Linked DNA regions of Homo sapiens. The protein of the gene in region 2 interacts with the protein of the main gene of each other region in a pairwise test. Each region holds a gene or a part of one and is shown on either strand. Other genes may lie near its edges.

Region 1 (7,940 bases), on a different chromosome or scaffold from region 2:
CAAAGTGGGAAGAATCCTAGAGCTGTTCAGATTCATGGAGATGCTTAGCCTGAGACCTGGCCTTCTCTCCCGCAGAAGCTTCACACCTATTTCCCTGTCTCCTCACTGGGGGTGCTGCAGGAGGACTCGTCCAACATCGTGGAGCTGCTGGAGGAGGCCTTCAATGTGAGGGCAGCTCAGGCTCCAGAGTCTGAGCCCTTCTGGGGCAGGGCAGGAAGTGGGCAGGGTGGGCAAGAGGTGTCTTGGATCACGGTGGAGAAATGGGTCTGGGACAGACCAGTGAGGAAGGGTCTCTAGCTATCCCTGAGGCCCCGAGGGGCCACCTGGGCCTGGCCCTGGCTCCTGCAGGCTCTGTGATACCCCGCATGATGCCAGCCACACTTGGAGGTTGGGGTGGAGCACAGAGGCCCCCCACAGAGCACTGATCAACCTCCTTCCTCCTTTAGCGGATCCGCTCCAACCTGGACATCCGGGCCCTAGACAGCCCCCGAGGCCTTCGGACAGAGGTCACCTCCAAGATGTTCCAGAAGACGAGGACTGGGTCCTTTCACATCCGGCGGGGGGAAGTGGTACGCCTCTGTGGGGGCAGCGGGGTGGGGGATAGGCACAGCGCCCCACACCGAGTGGAATCGTTTAAAACAGCGGTCAAGAGCGTGGCCCCTGGAGTCAGGCAGGCCTGGGTGCAGATCCCTGGGCCTAGCCGCTCGGATGAGCCTAGGTTGCTCCTCTGCTTGTTGGTTTCCTCGGCATGCAAGCGTCGAGCCCGGAGGCTTGCTGGGGCAGTAAATGGGTTAGTGTCACGAAGCCCAGAGGCCCTGGCCACTGTCATTGTCGCTATGATTGTGACTGCGCTGGGAAGGAGGGAGTTTCCAGCCCTGAGGGAGGTGAGCAGGAGCTCATTTCAGGGATCCAGACATCTCCTAGGAACTTGGGGGCCGAGGGCCTTCAGGCATCGATGGCCCCCTGGTCCTTGGGGCTGGGCCTGCCTTGGCTGACCACGGGGCCCCTGCAGGGTATATACCAGGTGCAGCTGCGGGCCCTTGAGCACGTGGATGGGACGCACGTGTGCCAGCTGCCGGAGGACCAGAAGGGCAACATCCATCTGAAACCTTCCTTCTCCGACGGCCTCAAGATGGACGCGGGCATCATCTGTGATGTGTGCACCTGCGAGCTGGTACAACGCAGCCCCGCAGGGCGGGAGGGGAGAGCTGAGCCAAGCACCCAGGGACCCTGAGGAATGAAGCAGGACTCCTGTGCCCCATATCCCTTGTGGGGTTTCCCGAGGCACACAGGAGAGCGGAAGTGTCCAGTGGCCCCGGTCCTGCTCCCCCGACGCACCCCACCATGGTCTCTCTCATTCCAGCAAAAAGAGGTGCGGTCAGCTCGCTGCAGCTTCAACGGAGACTTCGTGTGCGGACAGTGTGTGTGCAGCGAGGGCTGGTGAGTGGGGAAGGGAGTTGGGCACCCAGGACACCAGTGGCCCCTGATGGGAAAGCTGGGCTCCTGCAGGGGCCTGGCCCTGGGTGCACCTTGTACACCTGGCTGGGGGTGGGGCGGCAATCAAAGAAACGGCTAAGGGCGGGGCACACCCAGTTGTTGGTCAAACCCAGGTCAAAGCACTTTGAAATACAGAGATATATGGGCTGTCTCTAGAAAGAGGTGTGAGGATTGAGACGGGGTTGGCTGTTGGGGCTGGGGTCTGGATCTTGGGGGACAGGCACACGAGGCTTCCTTTTTGCTCCATGCCTTTGGTATTCTGAGTCCTGTGTCATATTGCCTGATCAGAAGAGAGCTCGTAAATGCACGGCAGTAAGGGCTTTAGCTTCAGGACACTGGGCGAGCTTGCCACAACTTGAGGCAGAGCAGTGGGGAAAGGACACTGGAAGGGGTGACATGACAGGGCACTGGGGTTTAGGTCTCAGCTCAGCCACTTCTGTCTGCATGACTGGGAGCTGCCTCGGCCCTCTCAGAGCCTCAGTTTCCTCATCTGTAAAATGGGACAGCAGGCCAGGCGAGGTGGCTCACACCTGTAATCCCAGCACTTTGGGAGGCCGAGGTGGGTGGATCACCTGAGGTCAGGAGTTCAAGACCAGCCTGGCCAACATGGTGAAATCCCATCTCTACTAAAAATACAAAAAAGTAGCTGGGCGTGGTGGTGCATGCCTGTAATCCCAGCTACTCGGGAGGCTGAGGCAGAATTGCTTGCACCTAGAAGGCGGAGGTTGCCGTGAGCTGAGATCGCGCCACTGCACTCCAGCCTGGGCAAGAAGAGCGAAACTCTGTCTTGAAAAAAAATAAAATAAAATAGGCCAGGCGCGGTGGCTTACGCCTGTAATTTCAGCACTTTGGGAGGCCGAGGTGGGCGGATCACAAGGTCAGGAGATCGAGACCATCCTGGCTAACATGGTGAAACCCCGTCTACTAAAAATACAAAAAATTAGCCGGGCGTAGTGGCGGGTGCCTGTAGTCCCAGCTACTCAGGAGGCTGAGGCAGGAGAATGGCGTGAACCCAAGAGGCAGAGCTTGCAGTGAGCCAAGATCGCGCCACTGCACTCCAGCCTGGGCGACAAGGCGAGACTCCGTCTCAAAAAAAAAAATAAAATAATTAAATTAAATTAAATTAAATGGGACAGCAAAAGCCCCAGCTTTCCTCCTGGGCTGTTTCGGGGAATGACCAGTTCCTCCTTCAGGAGTGGCCAGACCTGCAACTGCTCCACCGGCTCTCTGAGTGACATTCAGCCCTGCCTGCGGGAGGGCGAGGACAAGCCGTGCTCCGGCCGTGGGGAGTGCCAGTGCGGGCACTGTGTGTGCTACGGCGAAGGCCGCTACGAGGGTCAGTTCTGCGAGTATGACAACTTCCAGTGTCCCCGCACTTCCGGGTTCCTCTGCAATGGTGAGCACAACAACTGCGGCCAATGCTGATGGCGGGGTAGGGAGTGGACAGCAAGCATGACTTTCCCGTCAGGACCCAGGTTGGGAGAGCCAGACTTGGAATCAGAATCCCCAAGTTCAGGCCCAGCCCACTCTGGATGCCCTGAGGGCCGCCCCTGAGTCCTGCCCCAACCTGGGCCTGACTTCCCTCATCTGTAACGTCCATGCCCAAGGTCACTGTTGGCAGGACTTTCCCCTGGTTTTAAGATTCCAACTCCCCTGAGGTTCTCTCTGGAAGTTCAGTTCTATGCCCACCCCACTTCTCCACACCCCTATCTCATTAGAGTGGGTGCCACCCAGCTCAGCCCTCCAATGGCTGGCAGGTATATGGCATTATGATCTTTCCTCTCTCCAAAGATGCTAAATTTCTGTGGGTTTTTTGTTGTTGTTGCTGCTGTTTTTTTTTTTTTTTTTTTTTTTTTTGAGACAGAGTTTCACTCTTGTCGCCCAGGCTGGAGTGCAATAGCACAATCTTGGCTCACTGCAACCTCTGCCTCCTGGGTTCAGGCGATTCTCCTGCCTCAGCCTCCCTAGTAGGTGGGACTATAGGCATGCACCACCATGCCCAGCTAATTTTGTATTTTTAGTAGAGACAGGGTTTCACCATGTTGGCCAGGCTGGTCTCGAACTCCTGACCTCAGGTGATCTGCCCGCCTCAGCCTCCCAAAGTACACATCTGTAATCACACCTGGGATTACAGGTGTGAGCCACTGAGCCCGGCCCAAAGATGCTAAATTTCTACCTGGAAGGCCTGGAGCTTCCTCTGTATTCCCATGGGTCCAGGCCATAGGCATACAGTCTGGCCAGGAACATCAGAGCTGGGCAGGATCACAGAACTCAGACAAGGGGACATAGGGAAGGATTGGTAGTTGAATGGAGGAGGATGAATGAAAATCTACTCATCAAATACTTATGAAGCCCTCACTGTATACTTTCCAAGCCCCTGCTTTTCTACTCTTTCTTCTGTTCTTGCTTTTGTTCACCATTTCTTCTCTTCGACTGTCTGTCCCTGAGTGTGCTCAGAGAAACAGAAGAGAGAACTGGGCACCACTGGAGAAAGGCAGACAAGTGGCACAGAGGGAGGTATGAGAGAGGAAGGGAGGAAGGTGCCTCTGGGGAAGGAGGCAGGGCCAGAGTACAAAGGGCTTCGGTTCTAGTCCAGAGCAGGACTTCATCCTTTGGACAAAAGGGGGTCACTGGAGGTTTTACTTTCATTTTCTAACTATTTGCATATTAACCTTGTATCTAGTCACCTTGCTAAACGCACTTATGAAATCTAATAATTTGTCTGTAGATTCTTCTGGATACTTTGTGACATGTTCCTCACACTTGCAAATAAAGACAATTTTATTGATTGATTGATTGATTGATTTTTGAGACGGAGTCTTGCTCTGTCACCCAGGCTAGAGTGCAGTGGCATGATCTCAGCTCACTACAACCTCTGCCTCCCAGGTTCAAGCAATTCTCCTGCCTCAGCCTCCCAAGAAGCTGGGATTACAGGGGCCCACCACCAAGCCCAGCTAATTTTTGTATTTTTAGTGGAAATAGAGTTTCACCATGTTGGCCAGGCTGGTCTTGAACTCCTGAGCTCAAGTGATCCTCCCGCCTCGGCCTCCCAAAGTGTGGGATTACAGGTGTGAGCCACCACGCCCGGCTGACAGTTTTATTTCTTTTTTCTTTTCTTTTTTTTTTTTTTTTTTTGAGACGGAGTCTTGCTCTGTCACCAGGCTGGAGTGCAGTGGCGTGATCTCGGCTCACTGCAACCTCTACCTCCCGGGTTCAAGTGATTCTCCTGCCTCAGCCTCCTGAGTAACTGGGACTACAGGCATGCGCCACCATGACCAGCTAATTTTTGTATTTTTAGTAGAGACGAGGTTTCTCCATGTTGGCCAGGATGGTCTCAGTCTCTTGACCTTGTGATCTGCCCGCCTCAGCCTCCCAAAGTGCTGGGATTACAGGCGTGAGCCACCTTGCCTGGACTTATTTCTTACCTTCTAATGCTTATACATCTTATTTCTTTTTCTGACCTTATTGCATTGGCAGGGACCCATTAGAGGTTCTTAGCCAGGGGAGCAGGAGCCACATGATTGGATTTGTTTTGAGATAATTACTCAGGCTGCAGAGTGGAAGGTAGGTAGGATGGAGGCAGAGATGGAGGGAAGGAGATTCCAGGAAAGTGAGGAAGAGATGACTTCTACCCCAGGCTAGCGGCACCCTGGCTCCCACAGCTCTGTTCCCACAGGCCCTCCCTGCCAGGTGGGCAGCCTGGACTACAGGCACAGATGTAGCTCTCATCTCCCTTCCTTGTCCCTCTCTGCAGACCGAGGACGCTGCTCCATGGGCCAGTGTGTGTGTGAGCCTGGTTGGACAGGCCCAAGCTGTGACTGTCCCCTCAGCAATGCCACCTGCATCGACAGCAATGGGGTAGGCCTGGGCATAAGACAGACAGTGTCTGTCAGCACCACCCACCCTCTCCAGAGAGAACCCTATGGAGAGAGGAGAGGGAGCAGGCAGGGATGGGGCACAGCTGGCTCACTGGTGCCCCCTCCTACCCCAGGGCATCTGTAATGGACGTGGCCACTGTGAGTGTGGCCGCTGCCACTGCCACCAGCAGTCGCTCTACACGGACACCATCTGCGAGATCAACTACTCGGCGGTGAGGCTAAGACCTACGAGGTGTGGGCGTGGGAACAGGGCAGGCACAGGGCAGTGTGGGCAGGAGGGGCTAAGCCTGATGCCACAGGAGCTGGCCAAGGGCAAGAGGTTTGGGGAGCGGGGGTCTGGCAGAGGCCCACCCAACACAGTGCCTGTCTGCCCCGCCTTTCCCCGCCAAGATCCACCCGGGCCTCTGCGAGGACCTACGCTCCTGCGTGCAGTGCCAGGCGTGGGGCACCGGCGAGAAGAAGGGGCGCACGTGTGAGGAATGCAACTTCAAGGTCAAGATGGTGGACGAGCTTAAGAGAGGTAGGGGCAGGGGCTGAGGGTTGGGGTTGCTGAGAGCCTAGGCAGCGGGCATCCAACGGGGCAAGGGTGTCATCACCTGGACGGGGGCTTGCAGTCTGGGCTAAGGTCACACAGTCCGGACAGGAACTCCAGAGCTGGGAGGGACCACAGAACCCAGATAGAGGACACCGAATCCCAGAAAAGGGTAAAAGCCTGAGCAGGAGGCACAGAACCCAGGCGGTGGGACACAGTCTGGCCCAGGAAGGGACCAAGAGTCTTGGTGGGAGGCACCTGACTTGGGCAGGGGCATGCACCCAGCAGGGGTACATGGTCACGCTGTGGAGACACGCAGCCTCCCCTCCTCGAGATCAGATACGTTTTCTGGACCCTGAGTTCCTGGGTGATGTCCAGGTCAGGGAAGTGGGGGAGGTAGGTTTCTAGGCTCTGATGCTCCTGAGCAGGGGAGCCCCCACCACACCCGTTCCTGTGCCTGGTGAGAGCACGGCTTTGCAAGGACTTCCACTCTTCCCCAGGAGGCCCTGCCGTGGGTGAGGCAGATCGCAGAGTAGGGGCCCCCTCACCAGACCCTGGGTCCTCTGGGGCGGAGGGGTGTGGCTGGGGTGCCCTGCTGACTGGCTGTGGGTACAGCCGAGGAGGTGGTGGTGCGCTGCTCCTTCCGGGACGAGGATGACGACTGCACCTACAGCTACACCATGGAAGGTGACGGCGCCCCTGGGCCCAACAGCACTGTCCTGGTGCACAAGAAGAAGGGTGAGCTGGTGGGGCCGGGCGCAGGGAGGGGGCGTGTGGCCAGAGCTCGGTGGGGAGGACAGGCACCACCTCCCCCTGCCTCCTCCTCTCCAGACTGCCCTCCGGGCTCCTTCTGGTGGCTCATCCCCCTGCTCCTCCTCCTCCTGCCGCTCCTGGCCCTGCTACTGCTGCTATGCTGGAAGTACTGTGCCTGCTGCAAGGTGAGCACCCAGGGTGCCTCCCAAGGCCCCACATCCCAGGGTCCCCACCCCAACAGGGCCCCCACCCTCCACCAGGGTCCCCAGTCCCCGCCTGAGTTCTCATCTCCCCAGGGTCCCCAACCCCTTCCTGGGTCCCCACCTCCCCAGGGTCCCCATCCCAACAGGGTCCCCATCCTCCACCACGGTCCCCACCTCCCCAGTGTCCTCAACCCCCTCCTGGGTCCCCACCTCACCAGGGTCCCCTCTCTGACAGGGTCTCCACCCTCCATCAGGGTCCTCCTCAGGGTCCCCAACCCCCACCAGGGTCCCCAGCCTCTCCACCCACCATCCCCACTCCTGCAGCTTTCTAGCCAGAGGCTTCAGCCCGTAGAGTCCAGCTGTCTGGATTCTGGTCCCAGCTCTGTGACCTTGGGCAAATTACTTAATCTCTCCATGCCTCAGTTCCCTCATCTGTAAAATGAAGATCATAGAATTGACCTCAGAAAGTGGAGCTGAAGCTTAAATTAGTGAAGTTCAGAAGGGACTGACCCATAGCATGCACCATCGCCCCCACCCCCACCTTGGCAAGACCCACACCAACCCCATCCAGCTTCCGGAGTGACAGTAATGATGATGACACCCATGAGCTCTTAGCCCGAGTCATCCTGGAGCCCCAGCCCCCAGCTCAGCCCTTGCCAGCATCCGTTCTCTGCTTAGCTCAGTGTTCCTCTTTGTGCTGTCGCCACAGCATGTCCACGTGACTCCATTTCCCCGCCCCCCATCACCCCATGAGGTCAGTGGGGCAAGGTCACCATGCCCTATGACAGATGGAGAAATTGGGGCTGAGAGGCAGGTGATAAATGCACAGTCCTCAGAAGGGGCTGAGGCAAGCTGAGCCCACATCTTCCCCAGCTCTAGTGCCCGCCCAGGACCCCCACTCCATCAGCCATCAGTGGCCAGATCCCTGAGAGCACCTGCTCTGGGGTCAGCCACGTGCAAAAGGCCTGGGAGCCACAACAGGGAAGAAAGGGCCCTGCCCGCCCGCAGCTGGCGGTCACTGGGGAGAACAGACAAGAGAAAGCGTGGAGGATGGCATAGCTCAGAGTAGGGATTGTA
Region 2 (7,940 bases):
TGAGTTGACCTGAGGGGACAGAGCAAAGGCTGGCCCGAGGAAGAAGGAAAGTGATTCCAATATCGAAATGTTGGGGGAGGGGGGGGCTTCGACGGGTATCCTCTGCCCCCTCCCCCATCGTTTTCCGAAGCCTTCGGGCCCCCGCCTCCCCTTCGCCACCCCAATATCCCTTGCCGAAACTAAAGGTGTCAGAGTGGCCCGAGCCAGATGGAACCGGTCGCCGGCTGGGGCGTGTAAAGCGGAAGCGCCGCGGCTCGCTCGCCCCGCCCCCCGGCCAGCAGGCTAGGTTGCGCGGGCACGGGCGCGAGCGCCGCGCGACGTATGCCGTATGTATAGCGGGGCGCGCGGGCGGCAGCGGCGGCGGCGGCGGCGCGCGGGCAGGCCGGCTGGGATCTGCTCGCGCCGGTTTAGGCCGGTCCTCTCCTGCTCCGGTCTAGTTCTTGATTGACAGCCCGGCACTTGTTTACCACGGCGCGGCCGCCGCCGCTCGCTTCAATGAGACTGCTGAGCTGGCACAAAAAGGGAGCGAAGAGGGAAGAAAGGGAAAGGAAGGCGAACTTCGGGCGCCTTCGAGGGGAGCGAATTTAAATGGCCCCCAGCTCATCAGCTAGTTTTTGGTTCTGAAATCCGTTCAGGGGAATTTGCACAGGGGACGAGGAAAATTGTATGGAGACATAAGCGAATCACCATGATTTTTAAATGAAAGTATCGACGTATACATGCTTTTTTCCCCCTTTTTCTCGTTTAATATCAGGGAGGCATCACGTTTTTTGTGTATATCCAATACTTTGCTGAAGGAAAGTTAAATAATGTGCCAGTTTTTTCTACTCTGGGGGCTAATCGTAAAGGTTTCTACACCAAGAAAACTTTAAAAGATATTTCTGTAATTATTTAAAACGCTAAATAGGCACTTTAATGATCTAGAACCCCCTCCCATATTTTCGATTATATTTATTTTCATGCCACTTGAAAAAAAATAATTTCACCAAAAAAATTGGTTGTAAAATGAAAGGTCATCCCTTTTTTATAGAAACTGGAAACTATTAATAGTTAGACTTCATTTTTTTCAAGGATGTTGGAAAATATTGTTTCCTTATAAGCCGACACCACCTAAATGCGGTTCTTTGTAATTATCTAAGGTATAGTTTATGCAAGTTTTAGTCGTTGCTAGGACCAACTGAGTGTTGTGATCATTTTAGATCAATAAATAATTATTTTTAGTTCAATAAATAATTATTTTTAGTTATAAATCTGACATTAAAATCAATGTGTGGCTTTTTTTTTTTTTTTTTTTACTCCGTCTATTTGACAAGGTTTTCTAGTGGTTTTGGAGTATCTATTCTATTCACATCTGGTATTATTATTCCCTATAAACTGACATATTTTAAGAGGGTTGCATGAACAGTTTTTCTTTGATACATTATAGTCTTAATGTGATAAATTTAAGCAAACCGTTGGAGACAAAGGATAGCATTGTCTTACCATGATGTGAGACCCGAGCCTTTTGAGTATATATACTATTTTATAAACAGATGCTTTGCAGTTTGGGTCATTTTCCATTAGAAAAAATAAAAAGCCTGTGGGGTGTGAGTATTCATTATCCCCATTTTACAGATAAGGCAGCTGACGACAGGATTTTTATTTTGTCCAGAGGAAATGATGAAGTTAGAATTAGAACTCAGATCTCTCAGACTCCAAAGCTTGTTTTGTGGTCTTAATTGTTATGTAAGCATCTTTAAAGTTATGCCACCCTGCGGAGTATGTAAATGTTGAATAATAAATTCTTTGTTTTCTTTTTATGTTTGTTTTAGATGATGATAATTCCGAAGAAGGCTTCCACACTATTCATTCAGGAAGGCATGAATATGCATTCAGCTTCGAGCTTCCACAGACGTAAGTATTATAAATAATAGGCATTTTTATAGATACTTATGATCAGAGCATTATTTTAAAATTAAGTATTCTAAATTTAAACATTTTTAGTTGAAAAAAAAACCCTTTTCATTACTGAAACTTGCTAGAGGAAAACAATATATTAAACATAAGAAGCTATTTTTTAATCTAGCGTGGCAAAATTATAGAAAGCATACTCAATTTTCAGTATTCTTTCCTAAAGTTTATGAGGTTTTTAAAATAGGAATAGGGTTTCCTTTAACATGAGTGAATTGGAAGTTGCTAGTCGAATAATAACCACTTTATACTTAGTTTATTATCAATTATCATTATGAGAAAAGATAGACCCTATCAAGTCTTAGTAGCTTCAATTTATAAAAAATTCTATATTCTACTTTTTCTGCTAATACTAACCAATAGCAGTAAGTTTCGAAAATAAAAATAATTAGGAATATCCTAACTTTAGAAATGTTTTTCTTCTGATATGAACTTAATAGCTTCTGTACAAAGAACTATTGGGAAGGTCACACAAGAGATATGACCCAGGCTTAAAAGGAAACATGCATCAAGGATACATTAATATAAAACTTGGAATCTAGTAAGAAAGGAAAAAGGAAAGTGGTATATTCTTAAAGTAATGACAGATTGTTGGAAGAGATGATACAAACTTTTTAAAAAAAAATGCCTTTTAACAAATATTAAAACCTGCAAAATGGCACTTGTGGTGATTATTCTGGAGAATAAACAGATTACATAAGATTTTGTCAGGTGACAAATGTACATTAATTCTGCATTTGTTAATTCTAGTGCTTGAGATGTTATATATAGAGAGAGAAGTCATAAATGGTATTTTTTAGAAAATTCTATTTACTGTATTATTTGAGAATTTTATTTGGAATATAATGCCCTCATCTAATTTCTGAGAAAAATATTAAAGTCTGTTGATAGAATAAGGCCAATATGGGGCCTGAGTATTTTCAGCGTCATTTAATGTTAAAGTTCTATCCATAAACCAAAGTCATTTAACATAAATTTTGGATAACTATTAGCATACAGTTTAAGATTTTATTTCTCTGCTATACAAGTTAATGTGGGAGTCTAAAATGCAAAAAAAAAAAAAAATTATGAAAACACCAGTGTTTCTTATGCTAATCTAAGCTAGCACTCTTGTAAATAACTGAACATTGAGTATTTTACTAATGAAATTATGAAAAAGATACTGAACTTGCTAAAATAAAACCTTCCACAAGTAAAATCTGACAGAGTTAAAAAAAATTTTTTTTTATTCTCTTGACATAGATCAAGAGGACTATATCTTTTTCTTTTGAAGCCCGTAAAGTTAGAGAACAGCCAAACAAGAATTAGAACATGAGTAAACTGAGAGATACAAAAGTAGTTTTTCAGTAAACTTAGGAAATGTGAAATTTTTGAAACTATAATGACTATTCCAGGCCTTTTCTAGACCTTAGTTAGTTGCTATTAAAAGATGATAATTCCCGGCTAATGAGAAGTGGAGTACTATAGGGAATTTGGTCTGAATGTTTAACCAGTGTCTAGAATTTATCAGTAGAAATAGTTAAACCATTCTCAACTTTGTGTTTGAATTCTTGGCCTTTTCAAAAAATGCCCATTAAACTTTCATGATTTTGCCACCATCATTAAAAGTAGCCTCCTCTTAGTTTAAATGGATTGTATTCTTCTGGCTTTTTAAAGCAAAATTTTAAAGATATTTATTGTTTATTCTTAGTTGGAAATAGGAAGTTTTTTCCCCAGTGACTTATCCCTTTGGAAATTTTTTAAATTATATGTTTGATACCTCATTGGAACATAAACAATACAATATATTAACACTTCTATTCTGACCTACTGTGTAATTGTTAGAAAGAGGTATAAAATTAATATATTGACCTTTATATTCTGCACAGACCACTCGCTACCTCATTCGAAGGCCGACATGGCAGTGTGCGCTATTGGGTGAAAGCCGAATTGCACAGGCCTTGGCTACTACCAGTAAAATTAAAGAAGGAATTTACAGTCTTTGAGCATATAGATATCAACACTCCTTCATTACTGGTAAGAATTGACTGAATTATTTATTCTTTGTTTTTGGCATATAAATATTAAAGAATAATCAATCACCTAAACTATGCAGTTGTCATAATTTAAAAATACTGGTTTTCTTTTAAAATTTCATAAATATACATTTTCTTAAATACAGTCAAGAACACTGAAATTAATGAAAAATATGCTCATATTTTTGACATTGTAGTATACCTTTAAGTAAATATAAAACTAAGACCAGTATATGATATGAAGTATCTCTTACTCAGAGTATGACAGCCATAACAAAAAACAGATCTGGTCCTTGGATGATTTGAGTGGAAGAAGAGCAGTAGTATCTTTTATTATAATACAATATCACTTACTTGACAATATCATAATCTAAAATTTGTACTATACTTTGTTATTCCAATAGAGGGATAGTTGTCAAATAATGGGGAATCATTAGTTTCATTAAAAAACTCCTTTTTTAAAGAAATCTATTTTTAATTGCATTTGTCTGAAAATAATTCAAATTTGACTTAAAACTTTATTTGATTTAAACAAATGGTAACATCTTTAAAGCACATAAGAAATGGGCATTTTCCTTTTTTACATATTGATTTTTTAATAGTCTCAGAGAAAGATGTTAACATTTGGAATTATAATCAGATTGCTTTCTTTGCTGCCTTTTTAAGGCAGTTTAAATGGAATGTGGAAAGGGTTTTTTTTATTTGGTTGGTTTTTGATTACTATATTTGTAAATAGTGTGAGCTAAAAAACTATGTTTATGGGATAGGCTGTAAACCCTTTACCTTTTTTTTCTAATTGAATGGAAATTTATATGAAAATAAAAGTAATGGTATAATTCAAAACCATCGGTTAGTTAAAAAATAAGAAGTATGTCTGGATACAAAAAAAAAGCAAAACCAGTTGTAATTTTTAATTTTCCATAAATTTAGGGTTATATTTTAAAATATTCTGGTATTGATTGTACCAATCCATACACTGACCTTTTTCTCTTAATTTTTTTCTTACAGTCACCCCAAGCAGGCACAAAAGAAAAGACACTCTGTTGCTGGTTCTGTACCTCAGGCCCAATATCCTTAAGTGCCAAAATTGAAAGGAAGGGCTATACCCCAGGTATGTAAGAGGTAGATTCCCACAAAAAACTTTTCTTCACTTAGCTTTTGTGTTTAAATTTATAATATGACTACTAAATATAAACATAATATAGTATTCTTTTGTGAAATAACAAATTGTGCTTATCCATTTGTTTTTTTCACAAAGTAGAATGTAGTTTCCTTTTTCAAATAGCTACTGATTAGTTCATTTCTATGACTCAAGTTATTTGCAGTTCCTGGGACATCTTTTCATGTATGTTAGTTGCACTTTCTTACTTTAGCTTTAAGAATCTTGACTTCTTTTGTTGTTTTTTTCTAACAGTAGATATGTATATATTTTTCCCTCTCTAGGTGAATCAATTCAGATATTTGCTGAGATTGAGAACTGCTCTTCCCGAATGGTGGTGCCAAAGGCAGCCATTTACCAAACACAGGCCTTCTATGCCAAAGGGAAAATGAAGGAAGTAAAACAGCTTGTGGCTAACTTGCGTGGGGAATCCTTATCATCTGGAAAGACAGAGACGTGGAATGGCAAGTTGCTGAAAATTCCACCAGTTTCTCCCTCTATCCTCGACTGTAGTATAATCCGCGTGGAATATTCACTAATGGTATGTACACATTTAAGAGGTTTTTTCCTTTCTTTTTTCTTTTTTGAAACACCTGTCACCCAGGCTGGAATGCAGTGGCACAGTCTCAGCTCCGCTACAGCCTCTGCTTTCTGGGCTCCAGTGATCCTCCCACCTCAGCTCCCAAGTAGTTGGGACTACAGGTGTGCCTATAGCCATGCCTGGATAATTTTTGTATTTTTTGTAGTGATGGAGTTTGACCATGTCGCCCAGGTTGGTCTTGAACTCCTGGGCTCAAGTGATCCATCCACCATGGCCTCCCAAAATGTTGGAATTATAGGCATGAGCCACAGTGCCTGGCCCAAGAGGTTTTTGGTGTTTTTTTTTGTTTTGTTTTTAAGTCTTAAAGTTATGACATAGTTTTGTCTTACATCCAGGATTTGATTTTTTTAAATTCCATATATAGTGACATATAAAATACATAACTCTTTATATAGTTTGACTTACAATTATACCTTATATGTAAATGTACTATACAGAATTATACATAAAAGAGAAACTTTTCATGTATGTAAGTTTAAAAATGAAGTAAATGGGGGTTTCAAATAACATTAAAATTGGTTATGAGTTTTTGAAAAGGAAATCATACTTGGCATTCTAAACTTAATATTTCTTTGCAATGTTTAGGTATATGTGGATATTCCTGGAGCTATGGATTTATTTCTTAATTTGCCACTTGTCATCGGTACCATTCCTCTACATCCATTTGGTAGCAGAACCTCAAGTGTAAGCAGTCAGTGTAGCATGAATATGAACTGGCTCAGTTTATCACTTCCTGAAAGACCTGAAGGTAATTTGATAATACACGTCTAAGCTTAATCTCTTACTACTATTATCAAGAAAATTATTTTGCCTCTGATATTTTATGACCCTAGATGAACATAATCTTTTCCTAAAGAAAGTAGATGTGCCCCTAATATTCAGTTTTGATTATATGTCTTCATAGTTTTGATCACCAAACAATAATTATTTTACCTTGACGTTGCTTTTTAATACCTACTATTCTGTGTATTTTGACATGCATAAGAACATGCTGTTCGAATTGCGTGTATCTTTTTCCTTCAGCACCACCCAGCTATGCAGAAGTGGTAACAGAGGAACAAAGGCGGAACAATCTTGCACCAGTGAGTGCTTGTGATGACTTTGAGAGAGCCCTTCAAGGACCACTGTTTGCATATATCCAGGAGTTTCGATTCTTGCCTCCACCTCTTTATTCAGAGGTAAGTACCTACTCCTTAAGTATGAAATGAACTGGCTATCTTGGGAAATAGCATTGCAGGCATTTTTTTTTCTTAATGTTATTAGATCTTGATTATCATGTTAACAGAACAAATAATTTAAAACAACAGATTAAAAGTTAATATTAGGTTCATCAATATTTACTAAGTTTGATGCAGAGGTAGGACTGTTCACTTATTAGGGAATTAAGATAATGATCTAACCTCATGTTGAATTACTAATTTTTTTTTCTCTTAAACTTTTATCTTGAGACACATTTTTTGAAGGAAGAATTTTGTATATCCAAGCATCAATAGGAAGAACTAGCATTTTGCAAACACTGATTAAATAGTAGAATTTATCTTATTCATGATGCTTTTCCAATTGCATATTTTGACATTCTCAGTCATAAGAAATAATGTATTTGTGATAACATCTTAAAACAACATTCCCACATGGTTAGACTATTTTCGTTCATCTCATATTGATGGCAGCTAAGCACTTAAATGTAAATAAAACATGGCCCTTAGGAGAAACCCACAGATTACTGAGGAAAACAAGCTAAGAAGCAAAATATTATGTAATAATGTGATAAAATGCACAGCTCATTTGAGAAGCAGCTTATTAGGTCTTGGGCATCAGGTGGGGCTTCTTGAAAAGGTGACTATTAAGCTGAATTTTGAAGAATGAGTAGTCCTCAAAAGGCAGGAAGAACAGTGTATGTAAAGACAAGGAGTGAGTAGGTGGGGTGTCCAGTAATTTCAGGATATTTCAGAGTGACTTTAGCCACTAGTACACATTTTTAAGGGGTTTTGGAGTTGGTTTTGATACCAAAATAATTCTGTAAATTACTAGAATCAGCTTTTTCTTTTGGTTACTGTAATTTACATAGCTGTTTTACTCTGAAATATTACTCCCAAATTAAACATTAGGGGATTGTTCATCATATTTCTCTTTTTTTTTATTAACACCATAACTGGAAGGGTCAGTTTTCCTTTGGTTGTGATGATATGAGATCTTCTTCATTCATTGATTATAG
Region 3 (7,940 bases), on a different chromosome or scaffold from region 2:
GAACTTGTAAAAATTGAAGTAACTTGTGTATTGTCATAATGATGAAAATAAAACCCAAATGAAGAGCACACATTTCTAACCTGTGTGTAATTCAATGTCAAACTGAATTTTGATGACTGTCCAATGTTATTTCTCCATGATGTTACTTTAGTACTCCTAGTAGAACATAATAGATATAACCAGCCTAAAGCTAGATCACGCAGGGATATAATTAACTGGCACAAGACCTAAAAGAAATAAAATACTGCTGTAAGCATTTCTGGCCTCAGAAGACCATAATTTAGCAAGTACTCAAGGTAGTCATTCCTGTGGTTTCACATAAAAAATAACACACACGTATGACAAATAATATAAGACATATGTAAACTACGCATAGAAGTAGCAGGAAGTGAAGAATCAGCTGAGGAAGGTGTAGGTGAATATATTAAGGATGCATCACTAATAAGACAGGAAAACAGTCAAAAGCAAACTATTCAAAAATTCAAGAGGCAAAGTACAGGAACAAATATCTATAGGAGGGTCTCTCAACTTCAGCACTAGACATTTTGGCCCAGATAATTCTTTATTGTGGGGGTCTGTCCTATGTATTACAGGGTATTCAGCAGTACCACTGACGTCTACCTACTAATGTCAGTGGTAGCCCCCTTCTCCTTCAGTTATGAAAAGCAAAAAATATCTCTGGGCATTACCAATTGTCGCCTAGCCTGGTGGCTGGGGAAGGGGAGGACAAAAATTGCCTCAGTTGAGAACCACTGATCAAAAGGCAAAAGAAAGGTTAAAAGTTTGAAGATGTTTCAGCTTCCAGATTCCAATTAAAATGCCCAAATATACTTACCTGTCAAAATTGGTATGTGGAAAAAAAAATCACTTTCTATTTCTCTAGATTTACAAGTGATTTTATTATGTTTTTATCTCATATTGATAGGGAAGAAGAGACTGAAAGGACAAGTTCTTCATTCTCAATCTGAATGTCCTTACACTCTATGCAAGACTTGCTGATTTTCCTGAAAAGTAAACATATCCATCTGTTGTTACAGCAACTCATTTAAGGAGAGCATAAAGTACTAATTGGTTATGAGAGGAATATGACTGGTTATGTGAGCATGTAGCTGCGAAGTAAACATATAACTTTTTTTAAAAGCACATGCTGTTTTACCCACCTTCTAATTACATTATCTGCATTGAACTTAATAGATCCTTAATAAAAATGTGAAGTTTAGTGGGAAGAATATTATTTTCAGTTGGTCACTCTTTTGGAAAATGTTTCCAGTCACACAGAGTACTGAGTATTTCTGCTACACTGGCACGTATGGAGGAAATAACTAGGCCTACTGTGAGTATCAATTTCCTCTTATAAGCAAAAACAGTAGCTAGGTAAACTTTGAATAGGTTATTAAATATTAAGTATCATAATTATGAAAAAGGTAAAGAATGTATAGGATATTTAATAAATTTTCTCTGAAGTCATTGTTTTGCCTGGAATTGCTATTTCTATGTCAATTTGAGAGACTTCAATTTATTTATTAACAGACCTTCACATGCAAAGCACCATGTGAAGTAAGGAAAAGATACAAAAATGAATGAGACAATCTCTCCATTCAAGGAACACTCGCTCTTGCAGAAAGCAGACAAATATTATAATACAGCATGAAAAAAGTACTTTATTACAGTTGTGTTGAAGAAACTATTAGCTTGTTGAAAAATAAAACGTCAATTTGCTTTGATCATAAACCATTTAAAATTATCACTAACGCCCAAGTCCCCAGAAAAACCCTCATGATTTTTGAGGTTTATGCTGATGCCAAAATGAATTTATTAACAATAAAACTAATAATACAAACTATCTGTAGATGACCACCCACGGCATAATGGGATGAAAAATACTTTGTCAGAGTAGTTCTGTATTTATCTGTTTTACAGTCGAGCTTCCAATTAAGATTTAATTTTTATAAAAAGCGGGTTCCAGGACCTTTTTTTTTGAAGAATTGAAAATAAAAGGACTAGATAACTAATGAGATACAATCTTGTAGCAAACACTAAAACAAAAACAATCAAATGTATTAAGTAAAGAAGAAAAAGCAGTCTATCTACATGTGTGAGAGAGTTTAAAACCAAGTACTCTATAAGCAACCAACAAAGCTAATATAGGGATCACATGTTATTTCAATTATTACCTGCTTTCATACGCCAATTAGAAAAAAGCTTTCAAAATTTCTCCTTAGTTCACAGACATGGAAAGAATGCTATGGGGTTAGGTAATGCAGGTAACAGCAATCCAGAATGTGAATTTTACAACTGCTGATATAATCCCATTCACAGTAAAATCACAAATTCTTCTATTTTAAAAGGGGAAAATATAATCATTACTCATCTAAAAATTGTTTATTATACTTTACTGGACAATCATAATATTCTCTATTGAATTAAATATCATTAATCTTATGCATGTTCCTTTAAAAGGAATACAATATTTGTTCATCTATGCCTGAAGTTTTTAGGCTAATTTTCTTTTTTACGCAAGTTCCTAGGAACTGCTTTTACTGACATTAAAAAACAAATTGCTTGTTATGTACTTGTACTCAATTATCTGGTGAACTGACTAAGATAAAATTACATAAGATGTCAATGCACTAGAGAAAATGCCAGCAACAGTGAGAGCACATCACTACAGGCTACACTGTCTCTCCCATTTTTATCTTGCTGTGGCCACTTTACTGACTCGATTTACACTGCTACAAAACTTAAACACATTAAGTCATTTAATCCTCACAATAACCCTATTATAAAGGGGGGTATCATTTTAATCCCCACTTTACAACTGAGGAGAAGAACCGAAATATTCCAAAATGTATCTAAGGTAATAACATAGCAAGTTAGTGACAGAGCATGGATCTGAAACCAGACAGTCTTGCTCCAGTACCAGCACTTTTCAAACCTACTTATATATACAATTCACCAGGAATCTTGTTAAATTCAAATTCTGGGTTGGGGGTTGGGGGAAGCAAGAGTCTGCATTTCTAACAACCTCATCTGTGACGCAGATGCTGACAGTCAGCAGCTCACTCTTTTAAGTAGCAAAGTTCTAGTCCGCCCTAGAAAATGATGGAAAGTGGTAGCAACCCTCAGAAGAAAGCAGAATTTATCCTCAGACAATTAGGCTAATGAGGAATCTAGAGATTATCAACTACTGGTTTAGAAACAACTGCTTCTTTTATGATTTCATTATTTTTTTATTTTTAAAGAAGAAAGTCAACGAAATCACCTGATCTCAGGTTTTGCTAGTCAATATATTAATACTATTAACTTGAAACTGTAATACATATCCCCCAATATGGCCTTTCCCACATCAAGAAACTATTTATTAATACAAATACCCCCAAATATCTCCAGTATAGATTCAATCTGAACATACACTCTTAAAATATTCGTCAGTATATTTGTGCTTCTTCCTATATGGAAAGAAATTAGGGGTTAAGTTAGAAATCCAGTACCTTTCTAAACTTTCGCTGTTTGCACAAGTGGTGACTAGGAGAGGACAAGGACACCCTCTGGGAAACAGATGGAAAGTAAATGTCTTAATAACACATCACTAAACAATTCTAGTCAACAATTCTCAATAAATACAAATAGGGAAATGCCCATAACACAATTTCCCTTGACTCTCATTGATGTATAAATTATTTATACTTTATGTAAACAGCATAAACTGAAACCAATAAATAAACATATCCCTATGTTTAGTACACTATGGCCCATGGCCCTCCAATACCTAAAACCATTTAAAATAACATCAAATCACTGGAAATAACGTCATTATCAAACTTTTACACTATCGGGAAAAGAAATATCAATGCTATCAAAATATATTAAAACATGTATAAAGCCATACACAATTCAATTAAATCTATCTTAAGATCACCCTGGGTATGTATGTACTAGACATAACTATATACTAATTAAAGAATATTTCATTAATTAAAACACAGGAAGGGATTTTAGAGAAATCATCCCAGTCTGAATAATTTTGGTTTTGCTGAGTTTTCTTGTGTTTCATTCAACTTTTTCCTGAATGTACACAGATATACTTTACATTTCTTCCCTGAGGAAGAATTAAATCTGTCATGTACTTTGACAAGCTTGTAAAAATCATATTCAAAACTGTAATGGAATTCTGATTAAATAACTACACACGAAAGCCAAATGTATTAGGTTTCATAGATCTCAGGCAATATGAATTCACATATTCTAGAATTTATGAATATAGATTCCATTTTTAATTATAGCATAAATTAATAAATTTAAACTGTACAATCACCGTAAAGCTAAAATTCTCATTTACGCACTTGTCAATTAAAAGAACATAACACCACAGTCTGTCACAGATCTGACATGAAGGCAAAAATACAATACAAATTCAGGCTTTTTATTTGTCAAAGTTCTAAAACACCTTTACTAAACACTCAGTATTCCAATTCCTACTCAAGGACAAAAACTAGGTCTTCTTCCACCCACAAGAATTTGAAGACAAAGTATCTGGATATTTTACATGTGAGGCATATGGTAAAACACTGCCTCCAAATAATAAGAAACCACTTATCCTGGTTCCCTACTAAGACATACTGTATGTCTGTTTTTCACATACCACAGCCACACATAAACTCATCTATTAAAAGAACCTGAGAACTGAAAGATGTCATTTGCAGCAGTTGATAGTCATCACAGGTTGTGACAAGGGAAAGCAGGGATGAGGTGTTCCATGTTACTGTTCACAGAAAGCCCAAAGTTTTGATGTTTCACTAGTCTGATCACTAAATGAGGAAGCATTATTTCAAGGACTTAAATGAAATCTGGTATATAAAGAGAAAGACAAGTGAAACCTCCTATCTCATTGAAAGATTCTACTCCCTCTAAAATAATCCTCAGTGACCTTGAGGAAACATTCCGGAGTTAAACATGTAAAGTAGATTTCTTTGGCAACTGCAACACTAGGCTATTGCTCTGAGGGCACTTAATACATGTCTACTAGGCTCTCTAGATTTATGCACGTACATTAGTTTGTTTCATTTGCAGACAATCAACAGAAACCTTTAAAAATGTTTGACCCTACATGCAATTTTAAAACATTTAAGAGTTCTGAATTGATAGATCTTTACATTTTTCATAATGGGAAATATCAGAATACACTCTGCAAGTTAAGTGATTCTTCCAGGGAGCAAATTTAACTTGACCTCCCTAAATGGCTACAGATTTGACACACCATTTAGAAGGCTGGAGGGAAAATACTTTCATTTACTTGTTCTCTAAAGCGGCACTGTTCAATAGAAATACAATGCAAGTCACATACGTAATTTTAAATATTCTAATAACATATTAACATAGTAAAAAAGTGAAATTAATTTTAACATTTTATATAGCCAAATATATCCAAAATATTATTTTAATATTAATGAACTTTTTTTAAGTCAATGCAGTATTATACATCCTTTTGTTGTACTAAGTTTTTAAAATCCAATGTGTATAAATTTTACCCTTATAGCACATCTCATTTTGGACTAGCCACAACTGAAGAGGCCAATAGCCACATGTGGCAAGTGGCTACATTACCGGACAGCATAGCTCTTAAGTAATACTTTGAGATCTCACATACCACCATCTCCTTAAAATTAGTTTACATTCATGTTTCCTGTTTGAACTGAAATTACAAATACAAGCAAACTGTTCATTCATCGGATAAATCAGGATCAAATCACCTTATCTGAGGATCCAGTTAACATACACAATAAGAAGCAACTGGATTATACCCTATTATATCACAAGCAGACTTCAGAGACAGGGTCTGATCATCCCAAGTGAATACAACTTGTAGCAAAAATACAGGTTAAACATGAAAACATTGTCCTATCAAACCATAAAACTGCCTAATTCCTTGCAGCCACTCGCATTATTGAGCACATATCTCTTCACAAACTATCTACAATATTGTTTTCTATGCGTGTTCAATTTTGTAAGCCATAGTCATTAAAAAAAGAATAGAGCGCTATACAAATGAAATGAAAAAAATTATTAGAGAAAAAATAATCAACCAGCTACTTTTAATGTATCTTATACCAACCAATAATCTTAAATTCATCTACCTGAGTTCCACTAAAATGAATTCCCACAATTCCAATTCATTTACTGCTTTTCATACACATATTCCAACCACCAAAATTACTAAAAATGTTCCCAAGCAATTAGGACATTTGCTTAAAACGTAAATAATTCCAACAATGCATTCTGTAGAAAACGACCACTAAAACCATTAGCTTAGCCCATAAAATTTGTCCTTAAGGCTAGTAACTGAATAAATCAAACAGAACCAACTATATGCTTATTTACTGCATTTACATTTTGTAACACCACATTCAGCAATTTCTAAATGTGGAAGGTCAGTTCAGATTGCACACACAAGCAGTAACTTTAAAGCTTAGCAAAATTTTAGAAGTTTCTTCAGTATACTTCTGAAAAAACACCCTCTACAGAAATACATCAGAACAAAAATCAGCACCATTCATATGAATATCAGAAGCACAAAATCAGTATATTCATAAATCCACAATGTATACTTATGCTAAAAAGTATTTTTTCTCCCAATTTTATCTAGTTCACCTTCTACAATTTTTGTTTAATGCACTTGCAAAGCTGTAAAGAAGCAAATGTTGTCTCCTCTGCTGCACACATATCCAGACAATACATCAATCTCTTGGTATTTTTCCACAATTTGAAACCAAAACAACAAAATTCATTTCTTACCTGCAATTAGGAGGAGGATCAAGGGTTATTTCAGCTAGCTCCTTCTGAATTCTGTTAGTGAAATGAGAAGAGACAAAAAGGATTTGATATAGTCTACAGAATAACCAGGGAATTACACTGCCCTCTACCACCATGCAGTTAAATGCAAGGCTGGCTCTGCCTTCAGTAATGCTAACATGGCTGCTTCCTCTTTGTTCTCAGAGGCATAACCCAAATCCCTTAACAGAAACTTTGCAGCTTTTTTTCTCACTTGCTGCTGCAAACAAGTAAGTCATTTACACTTGATTGGAGAAATACTCATCCACTAGTACTCAGTAAAGAATATAATATCTATTTCAAAACACTTTTTACCAAAGAAATTCTCTTTTCAAGCTTATATGCAAATGAGACAAAAAGGGAGGAGGGAAAGCACTGGAATATTTGACAAGGACTTGAAGTGACTTTTACTGAGGTAAAAATTAACAGGCTACTGCAAGAGCACATTAACAGTTCTGACAATATTTTATCTGTCAAAAAAAAAGTTTAAAATTTACAAATATCTTTACTTGTGAAAAACTTTCAAAGACTACTTGACATTCTAATTTAACCATTTCTGTTTTCCCTGATTTTAGGTACAGCACTTAAATTTAATAAACATTGAGAGAAAGAGGAGAAAATACATAGGCCTGAGTTAAGGGGGAGAAAAGCAGTTCTCTGATTTGATTCAAATTTAAGATGATTTCAAAACTTTAGATGTGTCTAATATGTTCCGCATCAACACTATACCAAATTGAGAATTTTAAATTATGTCAAAGACTGCTGCCATTCAAAAATATTATCAAGTTATTAATACTTCATTACTGAGACAATAAGGGTGAAAATCCATAGAAAAATATGAGTATTTATGAATCACCACAGAATGCAATATTTGATCAGTTTTTATATTCTTTTTCCTTTAGTTATCAATAAAAATTAACAAAATGTCAAAATTGGTTAATGCTGTAAACATTATACATTTTATGTATAATTACTAGAGTTTGTGGATATTCCACTACTACTACCACTGATAAGAGTCTCATTGACAGAATCTTTTTTTCTCCATCAGAAAACATCAATCAATAGGAAACAAATGATCTTTCACTTACATCCAATTAAATATGTTTCTCCTG

What was found.
Region 1: the proteins of ARRDC3 (region 2) and ITGB4 interact in binary tests that used the Homo sapiens proteins (3 or more experiments, as listed by UniProt).
Region 3: the proteins of ARRDC3 (region 2) and UBE2E3 interact in binary tests that used the Homo sapiens proteins (3 or more experiments, as listed by UniProt).

The regions. Positions count from the first base shown.
Region 1 is NC_000017.11:75,730,800-75,738,739, forward strand, and holds part of ITGB4 (integrin beta-4 isoform 1 precursor), read left to right. Parts: intron 1-75; coding exon 76-165; intron 166-446; coding exon 447-569; intron 570-1,012; coding exon 1,013-1,174; intron 1,175-1,363; coding exon 1,364-1,440; intron 1,441-2,690; coding exon 2,691-2,893; intron 2,894-5,251; coding exon 5,252-5,355; intron 5,356-5,488; coding exon 5,489-5,587; intron 5,588-5,765; coding exon 5,766-5,895; intron 5,896-5,937; exon of another isoform or gene 5,938-6,422; intron 6,423-6,522; coding exon 6,523-6,645; intron 6,646-6,738; coding exon 6,739-6,845; intron 6,846-7,940. UniProt on the Homo sapiens protein: Integrin alpha-6/beta-4 is a receptor for laminin. Plays a critical structural role in the hemidesmosome of epithelial cells. Is required for the regulation of keratinocyte polarity and motility.
Region 2 is NC_000005.10:91,372,647-91,380,586, reverse strand, and holds part of ARRDC3 (arrestin domain-containing protein 3), read left to right. Parts: exon of another isoform or gene 1-240; intron 241-489; exon of another isoform or gene 490-1,139; intron 1,140-1,811; coding exon 1,812-1,893; intron 1,894-3,818; coding exon 3,819-3,966; intron 3,967-4,973; coding exon 4,974-5,076; intron 5,077-5,408; coding exon 5,409-5,665; intron 5,666-6,310; coding exon 6,311-6,473; intron 6,474-6,710; exon of another isoform or gene 6,711-6,748; coding exon 6,749-6,903; intron 6,904-7,940. UniProt on the Homo sapiens protein: Adapter protein that plays a role in regulating cell-surface expression of adrenergic receptors and probably also other G protein-coupled receptors.
Region 3 is NC_000002.12:180,982,946-180,990,885, reverse strand, and holds part of UBE2E3 (ubiquitin-conjugating enzyme E2 E3), read right to left. Parts: intron 6,844-7,940; coding exon 6,793-6,843; intron 3,549-6,792; coding exon of another isoform or gene 3,492-3,548; intron 1-3,491. UniProt on the Homo sapiens protein: Accepts ubiquitin from the E1 complex and catalyzes its covalent attachment to other proteins. In vitro catalyzes 'Lys-11'- and 'Lys-48'-, as well as 'Lys-63'-linked polyubiquitination.